Homo sapiens: one gene and its partner. The protein of the gene in region 1 purifies or fractionates together with the protein of each later gene. This does not show direct contact. Each region holds a gene or a part of one and is shown in the gene's direction. Other genes may lie near its edges.

The links.
Region 2: the proteins of SLC49A3 (region 1) and CNNM1 purify together in Homo sapiens (affinity purification with mass spectrometry; one large-scale study listed by BioGRID and IntAct). This does not show direct contact.

Annotation. Positions count from the first base shown.
Region 1 is NC_000004.12:687,025-690,935, reverse strand, and holds the start of SLC49A3 (solute carrier family 49 member A3), read left to right. Parts: upstream 1-1,784; 5' UTR 1,785-1,808; coding exon 1,809-1,943; coding exon of another isoform or gene 1,944-2,030; exon of another isoform or gene 2,031-2,037; intron 2,038-2,070; exon of another isoform or gene 2,071-2,851; coding exon of another isoform or gene 2,852-3,027; exon of another isoform or gene 3,028-3,121; coding exon of another isoform or gene 3,122-3,306; exon of another isoform or gene 3,307-3,464; intron 3,465-3,590; exon of another isoform or gene 3,591-3,911.
Region 2 is NC_000010.11:99,332,213-99,336,023, forward strand, and holds part of CNNM1 (metal transporter CNNM1), read left to right. Parts: intron 1-3,811. UniProt on the Homo sapiens protein: Probable metal transporter.

The DNA of each region.
Region 1 (3,911 bases):
TTCCTTGGAGTAATTATGAATGTCTTTAACTTTGGTTTTCATGTTTCTTGTTGGTATACATCAATGCAAGCGATTGTTGTGTGCTGATCTTGCATTCTGCAATGTTGCTGAGCTCACCTGCTCAACCCAAGAGTTCCGACATGTAGGGAGGAGGAGCCCCTCAACAATGCACGCTCAACAGAGACTGAACAATGGAGGTAGCTACAGTGGCTGCCCCGTTTCATGGTGACACCCCTCGACAATGCACGCTCAACAGAGACTGAACGATGGAGGTAGCTACTGTGGCTGCCCCATTTCATGGTGACAGGCTCAGACACCACCTGTCAGAGGCAGTGCTCCACAATAGTGAGGTCCCTCAACAGGGAAGCCTGCACTGCAACTCCCCCTCTGCCAGGTGGGGTTAGGGGATGTTGAAGGCCCTAGGCCAACATTGGCACTGGACTATGGAGGAAGGTTGTGAGGGGGCTGGGTCCTCAGGGCAGGGCGAGCAAGAGGTGAGGAGAAGGAGAACAGAAGGAACTGGTGGGGGAATGGGGAACAAAGATGAGGGGGGAGGCTAGACGGTGGGGAAGGCAGAGGAGATAAAGAGAGTGAGGACCACAGGGCTCCATCACACGTCTCAGAGAATGGAACCCCCTTGGGGCCCACCCATCTCAGGACACCCCGGGTGAGCTCCATTTTCTCTTTGTTACTGGATGAGACTCTACAAAAAAAAAAAAATCCCAAAGTGGAGAGCTCTATCTGAGACACACACACAATCCCTGCAGAAGACTGCACAGTGAAAGCTGGGGCCTCATCATTAGCCTGTTCAGACTCAGGTGTGGAAAATGGACAGGCCCTGGCAAAGGAGATGAATGTTTAAGACAAAAACCACGAATAATACTGTTCAGGAAACGGGGATGGTTTCAAGGGTCAAGAGAGCCTCCCTGTTTGGGGGAAATCCTGTTTGCACGTCTGACCAGGCCAGCCTCCACCCCACCCCTATACTGGCCTCAGCAACAGGGCCTGGAGCCTCTTGGGTTCCCCCAGGGTGGGCCAGGCACAGTTGTGGGATCAGCAGGTTCTTGCAGAAAAGACTAAGCCGAAACTCCCTCCTCTGCCTTCCAACACACAGGCCTCTCCATCCTAAACAAACAGAAACCTGTGCCTACTCCTCTGAGAGCCGTGTCCTCCATTGTAAAATGCAGGTAACAATCCGGTGCGTGTGTGGCGGACTGCCTACCCCAGGGTGGGGCCCACAGGCCTTTCTGGCCTTCCCTCCAGCCTTGGCCTGCAGCCCCTCGCCCTCCTACCCCATGCCTGCTTCCCGCAGGGGCTGTAGAGGGACTGGTCTGATTTGAGGCTCTGCGCAAAGCCAGCCCAGCCTCTTCTTCCAGGCTGGCCTCTGGCCCCTCCCTGTGGCTGGCTTGAACCTCAGGAACTTGGGGTCCACAGCCCCCTTCAGGAAGTGCAGAGCTTCTGCTGGGCAGAGTGACTTCCAGGCCGCCTTTCCTGCTGAGAAGCACACAGGCTGTGACCGGGGCCCTTCCCGGAAGGGACATTCGGTTTTTGTGGCAGGGACTTCCAGCCTGAGGCCGAAGGAGGAGGGTCCAACTTCACCTTTGCCCGCCCTTCCCCCGCTTTTTTGGGTCTCCTTTAACTGGGACGGGGCGGGACCCTCCTCCGTAGTCCTTGGGGCGGAACTGGCCCCCCGTGGCCCGGCCCGGCCCGGCCCCACCTCCGCCCGCAGGCGGTCCCGGCCCACGCGGGAAGGTCCTTAAGCCCGGGCGGCCGGCGGGACCGGCGGAGACCCGTGGAGGCCGCCGACGATGGCGGGGCCGACGGAGGCCGAGACGGGGTTGGCCGAGCCCCGGGCCCTGTGCGCGCAGCGGGGCCACCGCACCTACGCGCGCCGCTGGGTGTTCCTGCTCGCGATCAGCCTGCTCAACTGCTCCAACGCCACGGTAGGGGCAGGGGCGGGGACAGGTGGCTCCGGGACCCTCAGTCCCTCGGACCAGCCGGGTTTTGTTTTCCTGTGGCCACAGCCCGAGGTGCCAGGTGCTGGCTGGGGGCGGGGGGTGCCTTCTGGAGGTGGCTAGGGATTGCGGGCACTGGGGGCACTGTCTGTCCTGGAGGTGGCTGGGCCCAGGGCACAGAGCAGGGCTGGGTGCCCCGGGGGATCTGCCAGTCACGGAGTCCCAGCCCTTCCCAGCCTTCAGTGGCTCCAGCCTGGGTCCCTCTTCCCCAGCCAGTCACATACAGGTGGCCCTGCGTTGGCCCTCTCTCCTTCCACGCCTCCCAGCCCCAGGACAGCAGGCACACAGCAGAGGCGCGCTTGGAGCCGCCCTCCCCTCCACCTGACTCTGAGTGAGGGGCGGCTCCTGGGCTGGGCTGGGTTCCGTCCTGCCCCCACCCCCTTCAGGTGTTGCACGCTGCAGCCTTTCCCGCCCTGTGTGCCCTCATCAGCCATCCCCCGGAGCCTCAGGAACTGGTCAGGCAGTATCTGGCCAACGTGCAATGAACAGCTAGAGTTGGCAGCAGGACCCACAGCTCAGGGAGGCGCCAGGTCACGGGGATGGTCAGGAAGCTCGGGGGCAGGGGCAGGAGTCACTCTCAGGCCTGGGTCAGGGCTCTTCCAGGTGGACCCCGGGGCCTCTCCCCTCCTCCTTTGCTGGCTGGGTATGGAGGGCCAGCCTCTGGCCGAGACAGGCCCGGGATCTGCTGGATGGGCCCAGGGGCTGCCTGCTGCCCACAATGCTGGCACGAGCCGTAACTCACTGCTGTGGCTTGGCGTCCTGGCCCACCATGTCCAGGCACTGGGGAAGCCATAACTGGCTTTGGGTGGAGTGTCTGAGGGTGCAGGGCTGGTTTCATGGTCCAAGAGTCAGTGGGTGTCGTAGGTGTGGGGCGTTCCTTGGACAGTCAAGGGCCTCCTGCTGCAGTTCTTCACTGTTTTATTAATATCCACGAGTCATCATGGAGCACACAGAAATCTCACCCTGACACCAAGAGTCGTCATGGTCTCTGCCTGGGTCACCACAGTGAGCCGTAAGCACCATGTTCACTCCAGCCAAGTGCCCTTGAGGCTGGAGGTTACTCATCTGCAGCCAGTGACCAGGGATCCCGGGTTCCAACCAGCAGCATGAGGGCCAGGCGGAGCAGAGCTTGGGTCAACACCCACCCCGGAAGGCAGCCCAGTGCTCTGGATGAGACTCAAAGGACCCAAGGGGGCGAGCGCAGGCAGGGTCGAGGCTGGGAGATGAGGAAGGGAGTCAGACAGATCGTCCTCCCACGTTGCCCCGCACGCTTCAGACGCATCTCTTCTCAGTGAGTCAGCTGTGGGCCCCACTCAGGCCCCCGAGGAACCAGGACAGGGCTGAGGCTGGAGCGGCGGGCTCGGCTCCGCAGGGTGGGCTTTCTCTCCCGGGCTCGGCCAGGCAGGCACCAGCTGGGCCTGGGGAGCTCGTTCTGTGCCTGGCCCCGTCCTGCAGAAAAAGGAAGACAGGGCGGCTGTTGCCCAAGCTCCCTGTCCTGTCCCGTGGGCTGAGTCAGACCTTGTCCGGGCGGAGCCTGGGTCTGGCTGCTGTGTCCGAGGGTGTGGCCTGGAGCTCAGTCGACTCATGGAAGTTGACCTTGAGTGACACGGCCTCCTGCCTCCCGGAGTGAGCCCCGGTGACCCGCTCCACTTTGGCCTCCCTCAGGGATGAGCCAGTCTCACCTCTCCTAGGAGGCCTTCCCCTCGGCCGCAGCGTGCACTTGTGCTGTGTGCTGGACGTCCGTGGGGTGAAGAGCTCTAGTACTTGATAATGCCTGTGGCTGGGGAATGGTGCCCGCTCTGGCAACATTCTGCCCAAACACCTGGGCCCTGCAGGAGGGAAGGTCAGGCTGGCCTTGGGTGGGGCTGGCCTGCAGTCCCAGAGGTTCTAGCTGAG
Region 2 (3,811 bases), on another chromosome or scaffold:
TGAAAACAGGGACATAATTAGAATAAGTGTAGAACTTCCCAGAATGACTCCTTTGAAGGAGGCATTCATCTGATATGAGTTGGAATGTTTATTAAAAACAAAAACCAAAAAAATCAATCCCTTGACTTCAGATTCAGCCTTCAGATATAGCTTCCTAATGGCTAGCAGTACTCTCATTTAACTGCATTTTGTATAAATTTTTTGTCAAAAATTTAATGTCATGATAATTTGAGCCCGAGGCTGCAGTGAGCTATGACTGTGCCACTGAACTCTAGCCTGGGTAACAGAGCAAGACCCTGTCTCAAAAAAGAAAGAAAGAGAGAGAGAGGAAGGGAAGGAGGGAGGGAGGGAGGGAAGGGAAAATTCAATCTCACTACTTTAACATCATAAATAATCTTTAGAACTTTGAATACAAACAAATCTGGGGTCTTTTTCCTGCCACAATTTTTGAAATCATATTAAATATTAAAATGTAGCCTGGAAGGGGGGAAAAAGGTCTAAAAGCTACTTTCAGTCTCAGATTTGAGAGAACAGCCCTAGACTTTGTGTTGGTATGATGAGAAGGGAGAGAAATGTATATATGGCAGCTATTTTAGTCCATTTTCGGTTGCTGTCTCACCCTGTTCAGTCCATCTCGCCTTAATCCTTGCATTCATAGTTCCCACTGCAACTTGAGGTTCATCTATCCACTCTTAGAATTATGCTTACATTTTGTATATCTTACAGAAGTAGGGTCTTAGATCTGGGCATTGGGTGGCATAAACCACAGAAATTTATTTCCTCAAAGATCTGGGGGCTAGCAGTCCAAGATCAAGGTGTCTGGCAGGTTTGGTTCCTTCTGAGGCGTCTCTCCTTGGCTTGCAGTCACCACCTTCTAACTGTGTCCTGACATGGTATTTCCTCTGTATGCATGCATCCCTGGTGTCTCCTTGTGTGTCCAAATTTTCTCTTCTAACAAGGACACCAGTCAGATTGGATTAGAGCCCACCCTAATGGCCTCATTTTAACTCAGTCACCTCTTAAAACTGATAGTTAAGATACAGAGCAGTTAAGATAGTGTCTCATTGTCATGTGCTGGCAGAAGATGTTTTAAATGAAACTCCTGTGAACTCATTCATTCATTTGTTTAGGTTTGTTTGTTTGTTTGTTTGAGACAGAGTTTCACTCTGTCGCCCAGGCTGGAATGCAGTGGCGCCATCTTGGCTCACTACAAACTCTGTCTCCTGGGTTCAAGTGATTCTTCTGCCTCAGCCTCCCAAGTAGCTGTGATTACAGGAGTGCACCAACACGCCTGGCTAATTTTTGTATTTTTAGTAGAGACAGGGTTTCACCATGTTGGCCAAGCTGGTCTCGAACTCCCGACCTCAGGTGATCCACCTGCCTTGGCCTCCCAAAGTGCTGAGATTACAGGCATGAGCCACTGCACTTGGCCTCATTTAGTATTTTTTAAACATCTATACAGTTTTAGGCAACAAGGGAGACAGGAAGACTGTCCTCAGGAGGTTAGCAATATACAGGGCATAATGAGCAGTCTTTCGAAGCAGGAATTGTCATATCAACTCTTATATCCCCAGCACCTTACACACTGCCTTGTAAATAGTAAGCTGTTCCAAAAAGTTGATATTGATCTGAAATGAATCCCTGTGCAGAATTTCTAAACCTGGTCGAAAAAAGCTCCTTTAGTGTTCTATTAATAGCTACTTTGTATTTAGGTAGAGCACTAAAGAGAAGCAAGCCATTACAGAGAATACTATACCAAGGAAGATATTTCCACTTCCTTTCATAGCCTTGCTACTTCCTCAAAGTAAGGTCCGTGAAACAGCAGCATGAGTCTCACCTGGGAACTTATTAGAAATGCAGAATTTTATGCCTCACCCTAAATCCACTGAATGAAAATCTGCATTTTAGCAAGCTGCCAGGTGGCTCCTATGTAACATTAAAGTTTGAGAAGCATTGCCTTCAGAGACCCCTTATTAACAGTGTTTGGTAGATCTACTTAAGATAGAATATAAGACATAATGAACAAGGTGGATGTTCTCAGGCTGCAAGCCATATAACATAGTGGTCATTTTCTTTAGGAGTTATACATTTGCACCATAGGTTAGGAGGTGAAAGCTGGGTTGAACTGCTTTCCTTTACCTTTAAAAATAACGTTTTTGGCTGGGCGCAGTGGCTCACGCCTGTAATCCCAGCATTTTGGGAGGGCGAGGTGGGTGGATCACCTGAGGTCAGGAGTTCGTGACCAGCTTGGCCAACATGGTGAAACCCCATCTCTACTAAAAATACAAAAATTAGCCAGGTGTGGTGGCACACACCTGTAATCCCAGCTAATTGGGAGGCTGAGACAGGAGAATTGCTGAGACAGGAGGCGGAGGTTGCAGTGAGCTGAGATCGCACCACTGTACTCCAGCCTGGGTGACAGAGAAAGACTCTGTCTCAAAATAAATAAATAAATAAGAAAAAAATAATTTTTAAAGCTGGTCTTTAATAGCTCTTCCATTTTCCTTACTTCCTTGCTTCTCAAGTAACGTAACCACCAACAAATCCCTTCGAAGGTAGAAGAGGAAAATGACGATATTAATAGGAGCCACAGTTACCATTAATTGAGCACCAACAGTTCTTCCAGGCACCATGCCAGGCCCTTTACATACTCAGAACAACCCTCCTGGGTAGATGTCATTAACTACATTTTACAGATGAAGAAACTAAAGCTCGGATCAATAACATGACTTGTACAACTTTCCATAACTAATAACTGACTGAACTGTGATGTGAACTACATCTGTAGGACCCGAAAGCCTGTTCTTTCCCTGCTACACCTGTCTTATTCCTTCCTCCATCCTGGAATTCCTGCCACCCACAGGGTTCAAAGGTAGCCTTTTCACCTCTGATTGCTGCCCATGGCTGATTCACCTCCAGTTTCTGCAGGTTAGTAATGTAGCTTTATAATTACAGTAATTGCTAACATGCATATTGCACTTGATAAAACATTTCTATATACCTTCTCTTGTCCAATCTTAAACAACTCTGCAGTTACAGGTGATGATATGGGATTTTATCTTTTTACTTCTTATGAGTTGCAAGTCTTTAGAAGTGGGGAAGAGGAAAATGGTCTTTCACACTAGAGTGTGAGGTTTACAAAAGGGAACAATATTTCTCACCACTGGACTGTAAGTTCCTTGAGGACAGAGAATGAATCTTACTTATTTTGTATTCTCAGGACAAGTATAGTGACCGCCATGGCTAGGGGATGTATAACCATTTATTGAATAAATGGTTTTAAATACCTAACTTCTATATTTCTATGTTTGAGTGAGGTGAACCCTAAGTACGGAATAATTAATGTTGTTCCTTGATCCCAGCAAATCTCTCCTCTTCCTCTTCATGGGCCTCTGTCCCCAGTAAGTGGCACCACTTGTCCCTTTAGTCTCCCAGACTAGAAAGCTTTCCTTTGCATTCACCTCATCCTATTAATCATTGTCGTCTGCACAGGCTGTCATTAGAAAATAGCATAGACTGGTGACCTAAACAACAGAAATTTATTTTCTCGCAATTCAAGGCTTTGACATCCAAGATCAAGGTTTTGGCCAACTCAGTTTCTGGTGAGGACGTTCTTCCTGGCTTGCATGTGGGTGCCTTCTCTCCATGGCCTTTCCTCAGTGCCTGTCCACAGACAGCAAGAGGCTCTGGTCCTCTCTTCTTAGAAAGACATCAATCCTGTTGGATTAGGGCCCACCCTTATGCCATCATTTAATCTTAACTACTATACTTCCTTAGAGGCCTCTCTGGGTGTCGTTAGGGCTTCAACATA